Homo sapiens: one gene and its partners. The protein of the gene in region 3 purifies or fractionates together with the protein of the main gene of each other region. This does not show direct contact. Each region holds a gene or a part of one and is shown on either strand. Other genes may lie near its edges.

Region 1 (4,328 bases), on a different chromosome or scaffold from region 3:
ATGCAGTTTGTGGGGAGCTCAAGGCTCTGCCCAGGGTACTCTCTGAGACTGGTGAGGCTCACCCCCAATTCTTCTCTTGGCCAAAGGCTTCCCTAGCAGGAAAGACCCCCACTCCCTGCCTCCCTGAAGGCACAGCTTTTCCTAACCCTGAGCCGCCAGGAAGGCCATGGGCTGGGCTGTCATGAGCTGGGGCCTGGGTGATGAGGCAGTGACCACAATGGCCACTTTACAGATGAGGTCATGGGGGCTGGGAACAGGAGCACCCCATCCAGGCCTCCAAGGGAATAAGCAGCCAACCCAGGTCCACCTGCTGCATGCCGCAGCCTGCGTTCTCACCAAGGCCTCCAAGCTGCTGGGCCACCCTCCAGCCTGGGGCAGCACTGGCTTTGAGAGTCAGTGCAAAATGACCTGCCCAGGAAAAGCCCTGCTTGCTGATCTGTCCATCTCCCTCAACACACACCCCCTCCTCCCCACCCAGGGAGTGATGATGTGTACCACAGATCTGGTCTCTTGCCCCTGAGCCCCAGGGTTAGTGAGCAGAGAACCTGGGATCTGAGCCAGGCAGCTCGGCACCCGGTGCAGGCTGCAGCCCCAGCGTGACGTGGTCCCGGTGCACCCAGGCTCTCTGGGCACTTCCGGCCAGGATGGCAGCCTTCGGTATGTGTCCTAAATGCCAGCCACGGGCCACAGGTGCCTACTGAGCACTTGAAATGTGGCTAGTGCAGCTCAAGAACTACATTTCAAACTTTATTTAATTTTAATTCAGTTAATTTAAATAGCTGCCTGGGGCCAGAAGCTACTGGAATAGTGCAGATCGGGGCCCAAATCCCGAGAGGGGGAGTGCCGTCTACTGAGTCCCTGACCCTGGATTCAGAGGCGCCGGGTGGGTTACTTGTCGGCCACTCAGGGACTGCAATGTCCTGGAAGATTCTTTCTGTCAGTGCTCTGGACCCCCCTGGGGGAGATGGTGGCTTCGGATGTGTGCCCACCCCCTCCCCTCCCGCACCTCAGGGTACAGACCTCTCCAGGTGGCGGCCTCCTCCGAGCAGCCCCTGGTGGTGGTGTCCACCACACAGGTAGATGACTGGGAAGAGTCGTCCTCTTTCTTGATGGAGCGGTTGCTGCAGGCACTGCCTCTTTCCAGCTTGGATCTCAGGTCTGCAGAGAGAAGGGTGTGTTTCTCAGTGGCGCTCATGGCTCCCTCCAGGGACAGACGCGGGGCAGCTGTACTTCCACTCTAAGGACAGTTGTCAGAAGTGGTGAGCCAGGCTGTCCCAAGCCACTCATCCACCCTGGACAGTGGGGGGCCAGGTCCTTGCTCAACTGTCCTGCCACCTCTTGTCTGCCAGTATTCAGGCCCAAGGTGACCAGATCTCTGACATTGAAAGAGACGTGGGAAATCTAAACATTCGAGGCCGGGCGCAGTGGCCCACGCCTGTGATCCCAGCACTTTGGGAAGCCAAGATGGGTGGGTCACTTGAGATCAGGAGTTCAAGACCAGCCTGGGAAACATGGTGATATCCCGTCTCTACTAAAAATATAAAAATTAGCCAGGCATGGTGGCGCGCACCTGTAGTCCCAGCTACTCGGGAGGCTGAAGCAGGACAATCTCTTGAACCCTGGAGGAGGAGGTTGCAGTGAGCCAAGATCACGCCACTGCACTCCAGCCTGGGCGACAGAGTGAGACTGCATCTCGAAAAAAAAAAAAAAAGGAAATCTACAAATTCATGTGAAAGTTGAAAGTTGTAGGTTTTAAAGGCTGGGGGCTAACTATAAACATTTTAAATGCTTTGCAGTACAGCACCATTTGAGTGAAACTATCTGTGGCCACACGCACCTGGCAATGCGTGATGTGTTTTCGATCAGTTCCAAGAAACAGAGGACCCTGAAGGTCAACTGCAAAAGGAGAAACTGAAATCAGCCATTAGAGGTCAATGTCCCAGAGGGTTCAAGTCACCAGAGCCGGAATGGGGTGCCTAGAGCTCCAGGGTGGGAAGGCGCACACCGGAGTCAGAGCAAGGATGAGCCCCCCCACCGCCGCACAGCCAGGCCTCTTGGCAGCAGAGGCCCTCCCACGGCCCCTTGGGGTGGTCAGAAGGCCGTACCCAGGGCGTGCTTCACGTCCTGCAGGGGCGGCTTCCGGGGAACATGGGGCGGCTCCATGGTGAAGAGGCTGCCGTTGTGAGGCGAGTGCTCATCGGAGCTGCTGGGCGTGGTGGGGGCCTCTCCAGGGGGTGACGGGAACAGCAGCAGCTTCTGTCCCTTCAGGTTGAGCCGGGCAGGGCTGATGAGGGGCCTGCGGTGGCGCAGAGAGCCGGAGCTGGAGGCCACCGAGCCGGCCACGGAAGGCGCTGGGGAAGGGAGTGGGGAGGAGGGGCAGCTCCCCGACAGAAGAGAGAAGTAATCTGGAGGGAGGGAGGAAGATGATGTGAACGTGGGCTCCTGTCACTGCAACGCTACAATGCGCTATTTCATTTCTGGGGGCATTCTTCTATTAACCCGGGAAGACAGGAAAGGTGCAGAGACTGGGGACAGGGGGAAGTCCTGCTGCAAAGCTGAAGGAGGAGAGGTGCCCTCTACCAGGCACCTGAGGGAGAGGAGAGATCCCGGAGCCTCAGCCATGGCCTTCTGCCCTTGATTTCCATCCAAAGCCCTGGGTACCATCAGCTGAGAGCAAGGCCAGATAGCAGCAAACCCTGGAGGTACAAGGCCAGCTCACCCGAGGCCTTGCTGCCAGCTGGCACCTGGTGCACCAGTTCCAGCCGTGACTGCCACTGAGGACGGCAGAGCAGCATGGTACCATCTGATCCTAGAGACTGTCATTCCCATTTCACGCAAGAGGAAACTGAGGCACAGGTGTGTAGGTCACTTGCCCAGGGCTGAGATGTGAACACACACTTGGGGTCTGTCTGACCCCAAAGCTCACACAAACCACCATGCTCTGGAACGCCCGGGCTTCATGTTGCCCCGTCCCCCACTTAGCTCTCTGTCTTCCTCACCTGAAACAGGAAACTCCCCAGATCGAGACACCTGAGATGGTGGGCGGCTACCGCTGAACAGATAGCCGGAGTCTGGAGACAGAGAGAAGCGGGCGACACGTCAGGCCTGTGGATGACGTGCAGAGGCCCCCACAAATGCTCTGCCGAAATCCCAATCCAGCCTTTGCTCTTTACAAATGTGCTTTCATGGAAACACAGGTGCTCACGGATTCCTCGGACTGCTGTCTGAGGGCTGCTGGGCACGTTCCCTTTTTGCAGATAAAGAAACTGAGGCTTGGGCTGGGCGCAGTGGCTCATGCCTGTAATCCCAGCACTTTGGGAGGCTGAGGTAGGCAGATCAGATCACGAGGTCAGGAAGAAACTTGAGGCTCACAGCAGGTGGTGAGAAGAGTCGGCACTGGGCATATTGTCCACTCCTCGTTCCATGCCCTTCTTCCCACAGAAGGGCCTGCTTTTCCAGCCATCTAGTCCCACTTTCTCCACTAATTGCAGACCCCAACTGCCTGTTCTCTCGATCCCAGGGATCACCAACCACGCTGCCTTTTCCTAAATCAGGCGCACGCACCCCAAGGGCAGGGGCCCCAATTCCAAGTGGCTGGCTGAGAGCTGAATGTGGGACCCAGGGACTGCCTCATGTCCTGTTGCCACCTGTGGGCTCTGAAGGGTCTGTTGCAGCATGCAGATAACCCTCCCCTCACCAGGCCAGGGGATAGGCTGGATAAGGGTGGTCACAAGGACCCAGCATGCCAACCAGGGTCCTTCTAGAATCCATTCTATGGATGCTGGGAGAGGCCGTCTTCCTGCTGGGCATGGGCTGCAGGACACAGGGATGAGGTGTGTGGCAGAGAAGCGGACTGAGGACAGACAGGGAGACAGCAAGCTGGATTCTGGCCACAGCACCTGAGCCCGGTCCAGCGCGTCTCTGAATACATGAGCCAAAGCCCTGCAGGAACTCCTGCCCCCGACCCACCCTCTGGCGATGGAGACCGGGCTCCTCCCCCCGACCCACTCTGGTAATGGAGACTGGGGTCCCATCTGTCACCGGACACTCCAAGACAAGCTTGCGCCCCAAGACCTCTGCTGCTACCTCAGACAGGTCGCTACTGTGTCCCTGCCTTGAGCCTTAACAGGGAGATTGCCTGTTCTTCTCTGTGGGCAGGAGCCCCTGCCTTGGAGGCCTGAACTGGCCCTGGGATTGCCACGCTCCCCTCCCAAGGGGCTTGAAACAGAAGTCCCTGAGCTCTGCCACCTTGGTCAGTGCGCACAGAGTTTACTCGGAGTGCTCAGGCCCAGGGCAGGGCTGCTCCTGGCACCTCCCACCCCAAGTTC
Region 2 (4,328 bases), on a different chromosome or scaffold from region 3:
AATATAGGACTACACTTCCCTCAGCACCTACACCAGCCCCGCTTGGCTGCATTTCCTGCCTCTTATTTCCCCATGACAAAACAAAAGGAAGGACTACTTTTGAAGTACAACTTTCTCTCAATGTCAACCTGGCACTTTCCTGAGTCCTTCTCATCTATTCTTGGTAAGAGATTCAAGATAATCTTAGCAGAGCTTAAGGGTCAAAGGAACTAAAATCCAAGCCCTACATTAACCACGTTAGCTGTGAAACCTGAGGAAAGATGTTTACCCACCTTAAGCTCCAAAATCAGGAGAAGGTGCTAGAGTGTTGTGAGGATTAATGAGAAAATGCATGTAAAAAGGGCTTAGCATGGTGCCTGGCATGTAGTAGTAAGTGACCAGTAAATGTCAGCTGCTTTAGTCAATGTTACTCCTACTCCTAGTGCTCTTCTTTGAGATTTCAGCAGACAGGACAATTCCCAAAAGAGGATGGGATTGTGACTCCTGTCTTCCTCACTGCAATTAGCACTAGCTGCATTCTGCCAAATCTGCACTACAGCAAAGTAGCATCACAACCATCTGCCATAACTTTCATGAAAGGGATTTGAGGTTGATAGGAGGAAGTTTTTTTGTGTGCATTTGCTTTTAAATTCTGGAGAGGGCATGGGTGGAGGGCGGTGGGGAGATAAATCTCTTTTTACTAGCTCTAGTGAGTTGAATGCTAAACGACAACCTTCAGTTCCTAAACTTTGTCTTATGATAAGACTATGCGACTATGCACACAGCAGCCTAACAACTCATTCTTATCCCTTTGTTTGAAAGGCACTGAGACCAAAATAACACTCAGGCAGGACTTCTAATCTCATTTAAAATAGGGATAAGCTTCCTTTCAAGTAAGCTTAGAAGCAATTACCTGAATGTTGTATATATGAAGAGGGTCTCTTTCAACAGCAGGAAAAGACAATGTCCAAAACCTTCAGTGCTTTGCAGATACTCCCCAAATTCAGGCTTTAAATAAATGTAGGGCCAAAACTAAAATGCAGAATTAACTCTGGTAACAAAGAAGATTCATTTTAATGACTTGCCTTATTATCAAAAATGTTCCTACCAAAGACAGAAATGTCATAGAAGGCAAAGAGAAGTTTTCAACAACGTGAATCCACTCCTTGCTGTTTTCTCTCTCCTCCACTTTAGCTGGACTTTGGTCCTCTGACCCCCTCAGCCAACACAGGAAACACTCCTACCCTTCCCCGGATCATCCCCTCTAAGGTGGTGCCTTCTTCACTACCTGGTGCTAGGCTTTGTGAAGCTGGAAGAATGACTTCTCTGCAGTCTGCTTAAGCTGTGGACTGCCTTCAAAAGACACCAACGAGACTGGCAAGAATTGAAAAGTCTAACAATACCAAGTCAAGGATATACAACAGCCAGGGCCCTCATAGACAGCTGGTGGGAATATAAACTGGCATAAGCACTTGGCAAAACAAGTTGGCATTCTCCAGTGAAGATGAAGATGTGGATACCTCCCCACACAGTAATTTCACTGCTGGGCATATGACCAGCATTATCCAACTTATTAAGCATCTATGGTGCTCCTGTACTATACTAATAAATGGAGATACAAAGATGAGTAAAATCTGGAAACTTGGAACTTTCTGTGATAATGGAAATGCTATATATTTGCACTGTCCACTATGGTAGCCAGTAGGTATATGTGGCTATTGAGTACTTGAAATGTGACTAATACAAGTGAAGAACTGAAATAGTTAATATTTTATTTTAATAAATTTTAATGTAAGTAGCCCTAGGTGACTAGTGGCTATCTTACAGTCCAATGCAGTGAGAAACTCATGAACATATGCACCAAGATACACGTATAAGAATGTTCATTCCAGCATTATTTGAAATAGGAAAAAAACAAAAAACAAATATCCATCAATAAGAAAACAGATAGTGTGGCACATGCATAAAACAGAACACTGTACAGCAGTAAAAAATAAACTCCATCTATAAGCATCATTGTAACTAAATCTTAAAAAGTGTTGAGTCACAGAAGAATTCAGAGTATGATGCATTTTTACAAAATTCAAACACAACTATAACAAATATATTATTTGGAGATTAAGAATCATCAGTGGTAACAAAGCTATGAAGAAAAGCAAATCACAAACACAAAATAGCGGGTAATGATTGTGGAGGCAGTAGGAATAGAGGGAACAATCTGGAAGGAGCACAAAGGGAGACATTTCAATAGCATGGCTGATATTCTGCTTCTGTCCTTTTATTGTTGTTTCTTAACATATATGACATGCATTATTTTATGCTTACAAATACTTCACAAAACAAACAAAAATGCAAAGCGCTGTTGAGGCAGTATGGCTGCTTCTCCTACCTCCTCCACTAACACCCTGCCAACGTGCAGACTGGGAGTTTCTCCATGAAGGAACCAGGTTTTACTCATCTTTGTGCCTTCCATTCTCAGCAGAGTACAAGAGCACAGCAGAGGCTTGATAAATGCCTAGTGAACTGACCCCCATTCTTAGAAAACCTGAATTTCCACCACCTCAACTTGTAACCACTTTTATTTTCCAGATAATGTTAAAGATCCCCCACCCTGAGTAATAATAAAACCAGTTCACTTACACAGAAACACATGTCCCTGCCACCAACAAGTACTATTTCTAAATGGAGTAAATGTCTAAAGGGGACAGAGTTATATTATCAAATTTACCACCTTATTAAAAGTCCATTTGATCTAACCTCTAAGCAAAAGACTTACATTCCTAAATTCATTTTAATGGCAGCTAAGGCCTTCAGAGGCCAAGTAACTTTGGTCCACTAAGAATTAAGTGCTTGGCCAGGCGCGGTGGCTCACGCCTGTAATCCTAACACTTTGGAAGGCCGAGGCAGGCGGATCACGAGGTCAGGAGATCAAGACCATCCTGGCTAACACAGTGAAACCCCGTCTCTACTAAAAATACAAAAAATTAGCTGGGCGAGGTGGTGGGCACCTGTAGTCCCAGCTACTCGGGAGGCTGAGGCAGGAGAATGGCATGAACCCCGGGGGGCGGAGCCTGCAGTGAGCCGAGATCCCGCCACTGCACTCCAGCGTGGGCGACAGCCAGACTCCCTCTCAAAAAAAAAAAAAAAAAAAAAAAAAAAGAATTAAGTGCTTGAAGCAGAGACCAGAAACCAGGTCTCCTACTTCTTGGGCTCACCTTGTTCTCTTCACTATCTTAGAGCAGCAGGAAGGCACTGAGATTTGTTTAGGTCCCTCTCTAGGTAGCTACCCTAGCTTGAGTTGATGAGAGTATTAAACAGGATAATGCATGTAAAGGACTCCATTTACAAGATGAAAAACTGAGGTCCAGAAAAATTAAGTAACTCACCACAGGTCACACACTTGGCATTGGACTAGAAGCCAGAAATATTCCACACCTTGCAGTTCTGCAAGTTAAAGAAATAATAAATAACATTAGTATGGAACTCTGTTGTGTCTTCATGTTACTGTAAACAAAAAGACAGGAGTTAACCTCTGAAAATAAGAATATCTTTAAATTACTCAATCTTGAATATTCCCCACGCATTGTATCTCAAGACAGGAGTTTGGTTAAATACCAGTAAGATAACCTCTAACCAGTTATAAAGACATCAATCACCTCTAAAAGTGAACTAGAGATATAGATATCACCTTATAAAAATTCCTGACATTTGATAGGGAGTAGTAAAAATGGAATTACTTTAAAATCTCCCATTTTTGTTAGAGAAAATTTTGGAAAATAATTAAATTTTGTCTATTTTCTTTATTTTTCCATGTATGACACATAGCAGCTTGTTTTGCCACAACTGTTATGAAGACTGTCTCCTTTCATTCCTTTTCTTTTTTTTTTTTTTTTTTTTTTTGAGACAGAGTCTGGCTCTTTCACCCAGGCTGGAGTGCAGTGGCCGATCTCGGCTCACTGCAACCTCTGCCTCCCAGGTTCAAGCGATTCTCCTGCCTCAGCCTCCCAAGTAGCTGGAATTACAGGCGCCCGCCACCACGCCCAGCTAATTTTTCTATTTTTAGTAGAGAAGGGGTTTCACCATGTTGGTCAGGCTGGTCTCCAACTCCTGACCTCAAGTGATCCACCCGTCTCAAGCCGCCCAAAGTGCTGGGATTACAGGTGTGAGCCACTGCGCCCAGCCAGTCACTGCACCCGGTCTTTCCCTTTTCATTACCACATCCTCCATCATGCAAAATGAGAAGAGATCATCTCAGAGAGATACCTAAAGTATCTCAAAAGAAAAAGTCCTCCATGATTTTAAGATATTTTTGTCAAGCACTTTAGGAGGCCCAGGCGGGTGGACAGCCT
Region 3 (5,157 bases):
AGCTGATCAAAGACAATGTTAGAATGACTTCAGGGAGGTCCTCAGTACTGAAAAAAAACTCCTTAAATATTCCAGCCATGTTTCAGAAAAATTTTTATGCAGATTTATGTTAGAAGCAATCTCCATATGATCATCCATCTTGTTGTTTTTCACAGTCCATCTGAATCTAAGAAACATAAGATTTGCCTTCTTGGTGGCCTTCTAATAATTTTCTAAAAAAGAAAAAAAGCCCTATTCTCCTTTAATTATTTCTAGTGATTTCTCGTGGTCTGCCAAATTTAGGGATGCCTCTCCCTTCTATGATGCTTTCAAGTTAATGTAATAAAAAAGTCAGAACCCCAAGTGATAGAGACTACCAGTGTTACCTTATGTTTACTTACAATGCCAAGCACTACGCACTTGTTACCCACTCTGAATCCATCCAACTGTCTGAAAGAAGGATTCTCCATCTAACTATTCACACTCACCAATGTGGTCATTGGAACCACAAGCTGGTGCAGGTTACTTAGCTCTGTGGAAGGACAACAAAGGGTTTTGTCCTCAGATTATCTAAGCCTCTGCAAGCATGTTCTGACAGCTATTCCAAAGTAGGAGGAAAAGCAGGGAAGAATATTTGGATCTCTTTTGTTGTTTTATCCAGACAGAAATTAATAAATCATGATGATATCCAATCACAGCCTTCTTTGATCTCATTTGGGACACTGACAGACCAGGTGTTCTCTAAATTTATATGTGTATATAGCAACCAAGAATGTAAGAAAAATATTAAAACCAAAAAACTTTCTTAAATCAGGGAAATTGTTACATGTTCTATTTCTTTGTTACTTCTTGGAAGAGGAACAAGAGGGGCCTTGATAAGAGTTTGAAACAATAGACAGTTAACCACAGTCAGGCAATCTCGCCTGCTTCCCATGGAAAGGAAAGTTTTACATCAAAGGTCTTACATTTCACACAGGATATTATGATTCTATCTCTCATAATGGTAGCTTGACATTTTTTAGTGCCTTCTATCAGCATCTCATATGGCTGCCTTACTAAGAAATTATAATTCCTGGCCGGGCACGGTGGCTCACGCCTGTAATCCCAATACTTTGGGAGGCCGAGGCGGGTGGGTCACGAGGTCAGGAGATTGAGACCATCCTGGTATGGTGAAACCCGGTCTCTACTAAAAATACAAAAAATTAGCCGGGCATGGTGGCGGGCGCCTGTAGTCCTAGCTACTCGGGAGGCTGAGGCAGGAAAATGGCGTGAACCGGGGAGGCGGAGCTTGCAGTGAGCCGAGATCGTGCCACTGCACTCCAGCTTGGGCCACAGAGCAAGACTCCGTCTCAAAAAAAAAAAAAAAAAAAAAAGGAAAAGGAAAAGAAATTACAATTCCTCTCATAACCTGGCAAATTTTTTTTTCAGTTTCATACACACACGCACACACACACATCATATATACATATGATATATATATGTTTTCTTATGTCTTCCTTTTTATTATAAAACAATATTTTGAAGGGGAAAATAAATACATGTTTATTGTGAACACTTCTTGAAATAAATATGTAAACAAGTATTTCAAAAGCAGAAGAGAAATGACCCAAAATCATATCATCTAGTGGCTCTTACAGGTTTTATTTGCATTGTTGGGCTCATCCTTTTACGATTAAATTTTGTGCTGTTTTCCTCTTATTATTGTATCACCAGCATCAAAAGCCTTATAGATAACATTCACAAAGCTTGTAACATATTACCACCAAGGTAAAAGTGCATACTCTGGCTGGCATACTGGCCCATGCCTATAATCCCAACATTTTGGGAGGCCAAGATGGGAGGATCCCTTGAGGCCAGGAATTCAAGACCAGGCTGGGCAACATAGCAAGCCTCCATTGCTACAAAAAATAAAAAACTTACCTCAGTGTGGTGCTCGCCTATGGTCCTAGCTACTCAGGAGGCTGAGGGGGTGGTGGGACATTGTTTTGAGCCCAGGCATTCAAGGCTGCAGTGAACTATGATCGTGACACTGCATTCCAACCGGGGTGACAGAGTGATACCTTGTCTCTAAAACAAATTTCAGAATCTGCGGTCAGACTACTTGCATTCGTAGGTCTGATGGGCTTCTGCTTGTAGGTTGAAAGACTCAGGGTAGCTTACTTTAACACCACTGGCCTCAGTTTTCAAATCTGTATAATTTTCTAGTCTGTGTAATTTCTCTCCCTTTATTTATTATTTTTTGGAATTACCTAAGGAGCTATAATGATACTTGGTGCCTACGTCCTATCTCCAGAGATTCTGATTTAATTCAGTCTGGTTTGCAGCCTGGGCTCTTCAGGTAATTTTAATTTAACCCAGCCAAGGTTAGCAACCACTGTGATCCGCTCAATTCAGACAACATTGCTCAATTTTTAGTCTCAAAGCCAGCTTCTTTTCAATATTCTTGGTGAGGTTTTGTGAGAAAGGCTGTCAATGCCCTTCAGCCAAATGTTACCAGAAATACATCTGTAGTTAACAAGTTTTGTTTGTTATTTATTTGTTGCGGTGAAGGAGATGACTCACCATGGGAAACCATGGGGTATATCAGCAAAAGAGTGTTAGAAATAACCTATTAGAGGATCTGCGCTTTGTCTGGGTAATTTTGGAAAAGGTCTATGGAAGTGAGGGTTCACTTTAGGTAAGGTGCTGTCAGAAAGTGAGGACAATTCCGTGATTGAGTATTCAATAAAACTTTACTATAAGGAGGGTAGACTAGAGCTAAGATACAGCTGTGATGGGCACAGAAGCAGCAGTCACTCATTTTAGCTGAGACTGAGGGTGTTTGGTGTTGTATAGGTTGCACAACAACCTTTGTGTCTCATTTTGCTAAGGTTTGAAGTGACTTTGTCTGATGTTGATGTTCTGTGGGATCATTTATGTCAAAGAGGAGAACAACATTGGCGCAGCTGTGAGCCTAAGGCCAGCCTGGAGCAACATACTGAGTCCTATCTCTGAGTATTAGATCACTTCCTGGATTTGGGGGTTGTTTTGGGTTTTGTGTTTGGTTCTTTTCCTCAAAGGATTTCTAAATTTTTTAATGTTACCTAAACATATCAAGAACTGTAGGTAGACCTGAAGATCTCGAATGTAATATAAGTGACAGAGAAGAGTGAGCTCAGCTATGTCTCTTAACAGACATTCTCAACCTTGGCCACACATGGAATCACGTGGCAAGTTTTAGAAAATACTGATGCCTTGGTGCCCACCCTCCAAGGTTAATTTAATTCTTCTGGGGTGCAGCTTGAGTACTGGGAACTCTAAAAGCTTTCCAGTGATTCTAATGAGCAACTGGTGTTTAGAAACACTGCTCCAGGGGAAGCCCCTGCCATTAGGAAAGAACATTTTGGTCAATTAGTAATATTTGCTCTTAACATCAAACTATTGAGAAAAATATTGTCAATGTCACCTCTTAACTTGCCCACTCTTATGCCAAGACTAAGCATCCTCGAGTATACAGGCTAGACGAAATAAGGAAAATTATTTTCTGTACCACAGTTACACATTCCTACATGCTTTCTGAATTTAATATAGTTAAGAAGTCTATTGTTTTCCAAACTAAGAATACATGTTCCCATGAGCATTTTTATCATTTCTAAAATTATTTAAAAATTGTAATAAGTGTTTACACATTCAATTATAATAAATTTTTTTTTCAGAAAATAATAAAATTGTGCTGTGGTCTGAGAGAGTGGTTATTGTGATTTCAGTTCTTTTGCATTTGCTGACAAGTGTTCTTTGTTTGACCGTATGGTTGATTTTAGAGTATGTGTCACGTGGCAATGAGAAGAATGTATACTCTTTTGTTTTTGGGTGAAGAGGTCTGTAGAAGTCTACAGGTTCATTTGAGCCTGCTGAGTTTAGGTCCTGAATATGTTTGTTAATTTTCTGCCTTGATGATCTGTCTAAAACTGTCAGTGGGATGTTGAAGTCTCCCACTATTATTATGTGGGAGTGTCAGTCTCTTTGAAAGTCTCTAAGAACTTGCTTTATGAATCTGGGTGCTCCTGTGTTGAGTGGATATATATTTAGTTAGGTATTGTTAAATTGAACCCTTTACCATTATGTTATTACCTTCTTTTCCTTCTTTTTTTTTTTTTTTGATCTTTGTTGGCTTAAAGTCTGTTTTGTCTGAAATCAGGATTGCAACCCTTGCTTTTTTCTGTTTTACATTGGCTTGGTAGTTTTTCTCCATCCATTTCTTTCGATCTTGCATGTGAGATGGGTGTCTTGAAGACAGCATACCATAGGGTCTGGGTTCTTTATTCATCCTGACACTCTGTGCCTTTTAATTGGGGCAGTTAGCCCATTTACTTTCGAGGTTAGTATTGATACATGTGGATTTGATCTTGTCAGCATGATGTTAGCTGGTGATTATGCAGACTTGACTGTGTGCTTGCTTTACAGTGTCACTGGTCTGTGTACTTAAGTGTGTTTTTGTAGTGGCTGGTAATGGCAACATCATTCTTGACATAGGAGTGGGCTAAGGTTTCACGACAAAGACATCAAAAGCAATCACAACAAAAGCAAAAATTAACAAATGGGATCTAATTAAACTAAAGAGCTACTGCACGCAAAAGAAACTATCAACAAAGTAAACAGATAACCTACAGAATGGGAGAAAATTTTTGCAAACTATGCTTCTGACAAAGGTCTAATATCCAGCATCTATAAGGAACTTAAAATAATCTACAAGAAAAAACAACCAGCCCCATTAAAAAGTAGGCAAAGGACAAGACACTTCTAAAAAGAAGACATACATGCTGCCAACAAGCATATGAAAAAAAAAGCTTAACATCACTGATCATTAGAGAAATGCAAATCAAAACCACAAGGAAGGTACCATTTCACACCAGTCAAAATGGCTCCTATTAAAAAGTCAAAAAATAACAGATGCTGACAAGGTTGTGGAGAAAAAGGAATGCTTATACACTGTTGGTGGGAATGTAAATTAGTTCAACCACTGTGGAAAACAGTGTGGTGATTCCTCAAAGACCTAAAAACAGATCTAACATTTGACCCAGCAATCCCATTACGGGGTATAAACACAAAGAAATGTAAACTGTTCTATCATAAAGACATATGCATGCGTACATTCATTGCAGTACTGTTCACAAAAGCAAAGTCATAGAATCAACCCAA
Region 4 (5,003 bases), on a different chromosome or scaffold from region 3:
GATGCTGGTCTCCTTGATCCTGCTTATTACTTTATCCTCTGTATATCAACAGTGTGTGGCTGATATGGGTACCCAACAGACACTTATTGAATGGATGAGAGAGAAAGGCAAGTTTAACACTAAAATACTATTATCTACTAACCACAAAACGTGGGAAACATGCAGGTGGTAGAAAATGGCAGGGATTTATCCCTGGAAAGGGACTGTTATTCACCACCCATGGGGGTAGGGCTAGGTACACGTGTCGTCCTTCTTTCAGATTCTTGCTCAGGATCAGAATTTTGATTTGCTAAAGGGTCCCTCAACTTATCTAAAGGAAATCATAGGCAGTGGCTCACGCCTGTAATCCCAGCACTTTTGGAGGCCGAGGCGGGAGGACCACTTGAGGTCAGGAGCTCAAGACCAGCCTGGTCAACATGGCAAAACCCCGTCTCTACTAAAAATACAAAAATAGCCAGGTGTGATGGTGGGCACCTGTAATCCCAGCTACTTGGGAGGCTGAGGCGGGAGAATCGCTTGAACTCGGGAGGCGGAGGTTGCAGTGAGCGGAGATCCACCACTGCACTCCAGCCTGGGCAACAGTGAGACTCCATCTCAATAAATAAATAAATAAATAAATAAATAAATAAAATAAAACAAAGGAAATCACTTCTCCCTCAGTGGGTAGCTTCTCCAGAGAAAAATGTTAAAGCTGACACACAGCCTTTTCTAATGACCAGTCCTGGAAAACTGTGCCTAAGCTCCGTCAGCACTGTAAGCACTGAGACCAGGACCTGTTCGTTGCTGCATTCCCAGCACCTAGCCCAGTTCATCGCCCAGAGGAGATGCCCAAAATGTTTGTAAAATGAGCATGTAAGACACAGCCTTCTGAGGAACGGCCATCCCAACAACTCTTACACTGCAGAAGCACTTAATTTTAGAAACAGGCCAAGACAGCTGCAGAGGGGCTCCAGACCTACGCCTCTCCCTGGGCAACAGTTTGGTTCCTAGAATTCAACACTCACCACCATGTGCCATAGATAACAAAATATTATCTTCCCCACAGTTGCCCTGTATCAAATTTGAATACACTTGGCCAATATAATCTCATGGCTAATACAGTACAGCAACCAATAAGATTTCTCTTGCCCTTTATTTTTTTATATGTACTTTGGCCAGCAAGGATAGATCAAAATGCTAAAGAACAATTGAAATTGAAGAATTCCACCATTAATTTCATAACCAGTAGTTCCTGGCTCACTGTGTGATCCCAGGAAAACCACATTGCCTTCTTGAACTGTCAGCTTCAGCTACAGTCCTAATGCTCTTTATCTAAAGGGTAGTTTGGGGAAGATTACTTAGTAGTTGTAACATACTCCGGGACCAATCCATGAAAGATGCCATAAATCAAATTAATTATGAAACAAAGGAAATCATAAATATTGAAACCACTTCAAAACCTGAGAAGTTGAGAAGTGAGGAAGATTTAAAATTATGCCTGTGGCGCTGATACTAACTCACTGTCAGACTATAAGACGAGACACACATTCTCAGAAGATTCATGACATTCCCAACAGATCTTTTTTTTTTTTTTTTTTTTTTGAGATGGAGTCTCGCTTTGTCGCCCAGGCCAAAGTGCAGTGGCGCAATCTCGGCTCGCTGCAAGCTCCGCCTCCCGGGTTCACGCCATTCTCCTGCCTCAGCCTCCCGAGTAGCTGGGAATACAGGCACCCGCCACCACGCCCAGCTAATTTTTTGTGTTTTTAGTAGAGAGACGGGGTTTCACCGTGTTAGCCAGGATGGTCTCGATCTCCTGACCTCGTGATCCGCCCACCTCGGCCTCCCAAAGTGCTGGGATTACAGGCGTGAGCCACCGCGCCCGGCCAACAGATCTTTAATATTTGGAAATGTCAGATGTTTCTGTCCTCCAGCAGCATTAACTTCACATGGAGTATGAACAGTGACAAGCAATTGCAAAATTAGAGCTGTTCTCCGTTGCTGTACCCGTGCCTAACTGTTAACACGCAGTCTACCTTACCGAAAGTCAATTCCACACACTCAGTGAGAAAAGCCGTTTAACTGGCTGTAAAAATACTCCGCCCCCTACCTGCTGACCACCGCTAACACGCCAGGAAAACAGCAACATCCAGCAGCACAGCTGCGCTCCCTCGCCACGACTTCCTAACTTCCCTCCACTTGAAAGCACTCTCATCAGTGTGTGTTTGTCTAAAAACTCTTCTTGGAGACTGAAGAAGAAACACATCCAAGTGAAACTGAGAGGTCAGCTTCTAAAGCGGAGGCTGAACTTTGCAAGTGGGGGCGGGGGGAGTTAGTTCGGTCCCCCAAGCCTAAAAGAATGGGGCATGGTAAGGGGGACGGCCCCTTCCTTCAGCGCGGCACACGCTCCGCAAAGGGCCTGGGGCCGGCCCACGAGAACACCAGGGCACCTGCCCACTTGCAGCGGCCCCAAGAGACTCCTGGGCAGAGCACCTGGGGATACCAGGTGGGGTCGGGGCGGGCGGCGGGGCTTTGTCCCCATTCGCCCCTCCAGGCCGAAATGGGGGCGGTTTCCGCTGACCCCCAAGACCGGGAACTAGCAGGGTTCGGACGCGGGTCTGGAGGGTCGGCCCCACCACCTCCGGCAAACCCGAGGGTCCCCGCTGCCCCAGCCTCCTCAAAGAGGTGCCTAGGGTGGCGTGTAGGGGGCAGCCAGGATGGCGGAGGCCGGTACTCACAGAGCCCACTGGAGCCGGTGCTGGTGAACATGGTCCCGCCGGGCTCGGAGCCCCAGAGGGCGCCGGGGGAGGGGAAGCTGAAGTGCGAGCCCCAGCGACCGCGCAGGCGCACTCTTGGCGGAGCGACGAATCCGGCGCCGCGAGGCCACTCGCCGCTGACGAACGGCGCACCCGGCGCATGCGCAGTCAGGGGCGTGCGCCCGCTGGGTCAGCGCCCTCCTTCCTGCCGGGGAAGGGAAGTGCGTCGGTAGGGGAGGGCTCACCTCTCCAGGTTGAAACGATGGCGGTCAGAACCGCCTGAGGTAAAAACGGGTGGCACTGGGGAAGCGGAGGCGTAGCTCCCGAGAGCCTCACACTTGTGCTCAGTGCCGCCTCACCCCTGGTGGATCCGCGATGGCCGCGGATTCCCCTGGATTGCCGGCGCTGGGCAGGAGCGCCACTTCTAATCTCTCCCGAGACTGGACGCCCGGCGCCTTCCACGCGCGTTGTGTCTTTCCGGGCGGTCCCTCGAAGCTGGCTACCCCGCGGGCTGTTGACTGCAGTGGGATCTGGTCACTCAGATGCGGATAGAGGGGTACGGGAGCCGGAGAGGTGGAACAGGTCCTTCCGGGTGCGGAGAGCTGGGCCGTCCAGCCGCCTCTTTGTTCCCGCGTGGGTCCCGCGCGGAATCCCCACCACCGGGGCCGACTGTCGTGGTCCCTGGAGTCAGCACCCTGCCCTCCCCGCCGTGGTGGCGGGTGGCTGGGGGGTCCCCGGCCCGGCGAGCCCGGCGGAGCGACCCTGCGCTTCTGCCCTGGCGAGCTTCCGGACTCAGGCCATTTAAATTTTTTTCCCCAGCAGAATGAAGTTACTCTTTGCCAAAGTCACGGTTTTTAAATGTGTGAGCCTGAAAACATATCATGCAGTCGTTTTAAAAAGTTTTTTTTTAAGTTGATCTCGTGAAAGTAGGGAGTAAAAGAGTGGTTATTCTTGTACAGAGGAGAGTTAGTGGGGAGGAAGATGGGGAGAGGTTGGTCAACAGACACAAAGTTATAGTTAGAAGGAATAAGTTTTGGTATTCTCTTGCACGTTTGGATGACTATACTCAACGATAATGTTAACTTCAAAATAGCTAGAAGAGAGGATTTTGAATATTCTCACCACAAAGAAATGACAAGTGTTTTGGTGATGGATGTGCTAATTACCCTGATTAGATGGTTGCACAATGTGTATATGTATGGAACCATCACACTGTACCCCAGAAATACATGCAATTATGTGAGAACGCATGTTATGGGGAAAATTGACCACACTACCCAGCTAAATGAAAGGGATAGGCTATGGAGTACTAAAAAAAAAAAAGCATTTTCAGTGCTCATAAGTGCCAGCCAGTGTGCTAAATCTGTGATTCGTAGATCAACACAGTCCCTACCCTCAAAGAGAGGTTCCAGTGGGCCAAAATGTTAACACTGATTATAGAAGGCAAAAGTATGACTTTTATTTGCTTCTTTAGGCTTTATTCGTAAAGTTCATTTTCACAGTCTTGTTTTGTTCGTTTGTTTTGAGACGGAGTCTCGCTCTCCCCAGCTGGAGTGCAGTGGCGCGATCTCGGCTCACTGATACCTCTGCCTCCCCGGTTCAAGCGATTCTCCTGCCTCAGCCTCCCAAGTAGCTGGGACTACAGGCACCTGACACCACCCTGGCTATTTTTTGTATTTTTAGTAGAGATGAGGTTTCACCATGTTGGTCAGGCTGGTCTCGAACTCCTGACCTCGTGATCCGCCCGCCTTGGCCTCCCAAAGTGTTGGGATTACAGGCGTGAGCCTCTGGGCCCAGCCCATTTTCACAGTCTTGAAGTACATTTTACATTTACCTTTAGGTTCGTTCGAGTTATTTTTCAGGAAAACGACAGTCAAAAGGTCCTTTATGTTTGCAGAAGCTGTTGATGGACTACACCCTGACCCATTAAGGGGATGCAAAGTCCAAAACTATTTTCATAATAATGCTAAGACATTAGTTTTATTTTCTACTCTCTCAAGTATATAGTGGAGTTTTCCATTGTACAATTGGACAACTGTACAGAGCTACGTAACTGGATTTTCCACTGTACAGAGCTACATAACTGGATTTTCCAGTTGACCGATGCATAATGTTATGAAATCTTATGTGGGTAAAAGATTAATTTGAACCATAAAATACACCAGTAAACTTTAGTGTAACAGTCCAAAATGTTCATTCATATGGTTTCAGATTCCTCACTGCAATTAACCTTTAAGAAACTACCACTTGCTAAGTTATCGTATAGTATCA

The links.
Region 1: the proteins of SLC9C1 (region 3) and TMEM201 purify together in Homo sapiens (affinity purification with mass spectrometry; one large-scale study listed by BioGRID and IntAct). This does not show direct contact.
Region 2: the proteins of SLC9C1 (region 3) and HERC3 purify together in Homo sapiens (affinity purification with mass spectrometry; one large-scale study listed by BioGRID and IntAct). This does not show direct contact.
Region 4: the proteins of SLC9C1 (region 3) and UBAC2 purify together in Homo sapiens (affinity purification with mass spectrometry; one large-scale study listed by BioGRID and IntAct). This does not show direct contact.

The regions. Positions count from the first base shown.
Region 1 is NC_000001.11:9,608,583-9,612,910, reverse strand, and holds part of TMEM201 (transmembrane protein 201), read right to left. Parts: intron 3,072-4,328; coding exon 3,000-3,071; intron 2,406-2,999; coding exon 2,106-2,405; intron 1,897-2,105; coding exon of another isoform or gene 1,838-1,896; intron 1,693-1,837; coding exon of another isoform or gene 1,571-1,692; intron 1,159-1,570; coding exon 1,021-1,158; intron 1-1,020. UniProt on the Homo sapiens protein: Critical regulator of angiogenesis and endothelial cell (EC) migration. Promotes the migration of endothelial cells, which is essential for angiogenesis.
Region 2 is NC_000004.12:88,594,652-88,598,979, reverse strand, and holds part of HERC3 (probable E3 ubiquitin-protein ligase HERC3), read right to left. Parts: intron 3,424-4,328; 5' UTR 3,366-3,423; intron 1,031-3,365; exon of another isoform or gene 893-1,030; intron 1-892. UniProt on the Homo sapiens protein: E3 ubiquitin-protein ligase which accepts ubiquitin from an E2 ubiquitin-conjugating enzyme in the form of a thioester and then directly transfers the ubiquitin to targeted substrates.
Region 3 is NC_000003.12:112,286,713-112,291,869, forward strand, and holds part of SLC9C1 (solute carrier family 9 member C1), read right to left. Parts: intron 167-5,157; 5' UTR 80-166; coding exon 1-79. UniProt on the Homo sapiens protein: Sperm-specific solute carrier involved in intracellular pH regulation of spermatozoa. Required for sperm motility and fertility.
Region 4 is NC_000013.11:99,198,651-99,203,653, reverse strand, and holds the start of UBAC2 (ubiquitin-associated domain-containing protein 2 isoform 1 precursor), read right to left. Parts: upstream 2,801-5,003; 5' UTR 2,746-2,800; coding exon 2,715-2,745; exon of another isoform or gene 2,243-2,714; coding exon of another isoform or gene 2,087-2,242; intron 1-2,086. UniProt on the Homo sapiens protein: Restricts trafficking of FAF2 from the endoplasmic reticulum to lipid droplets.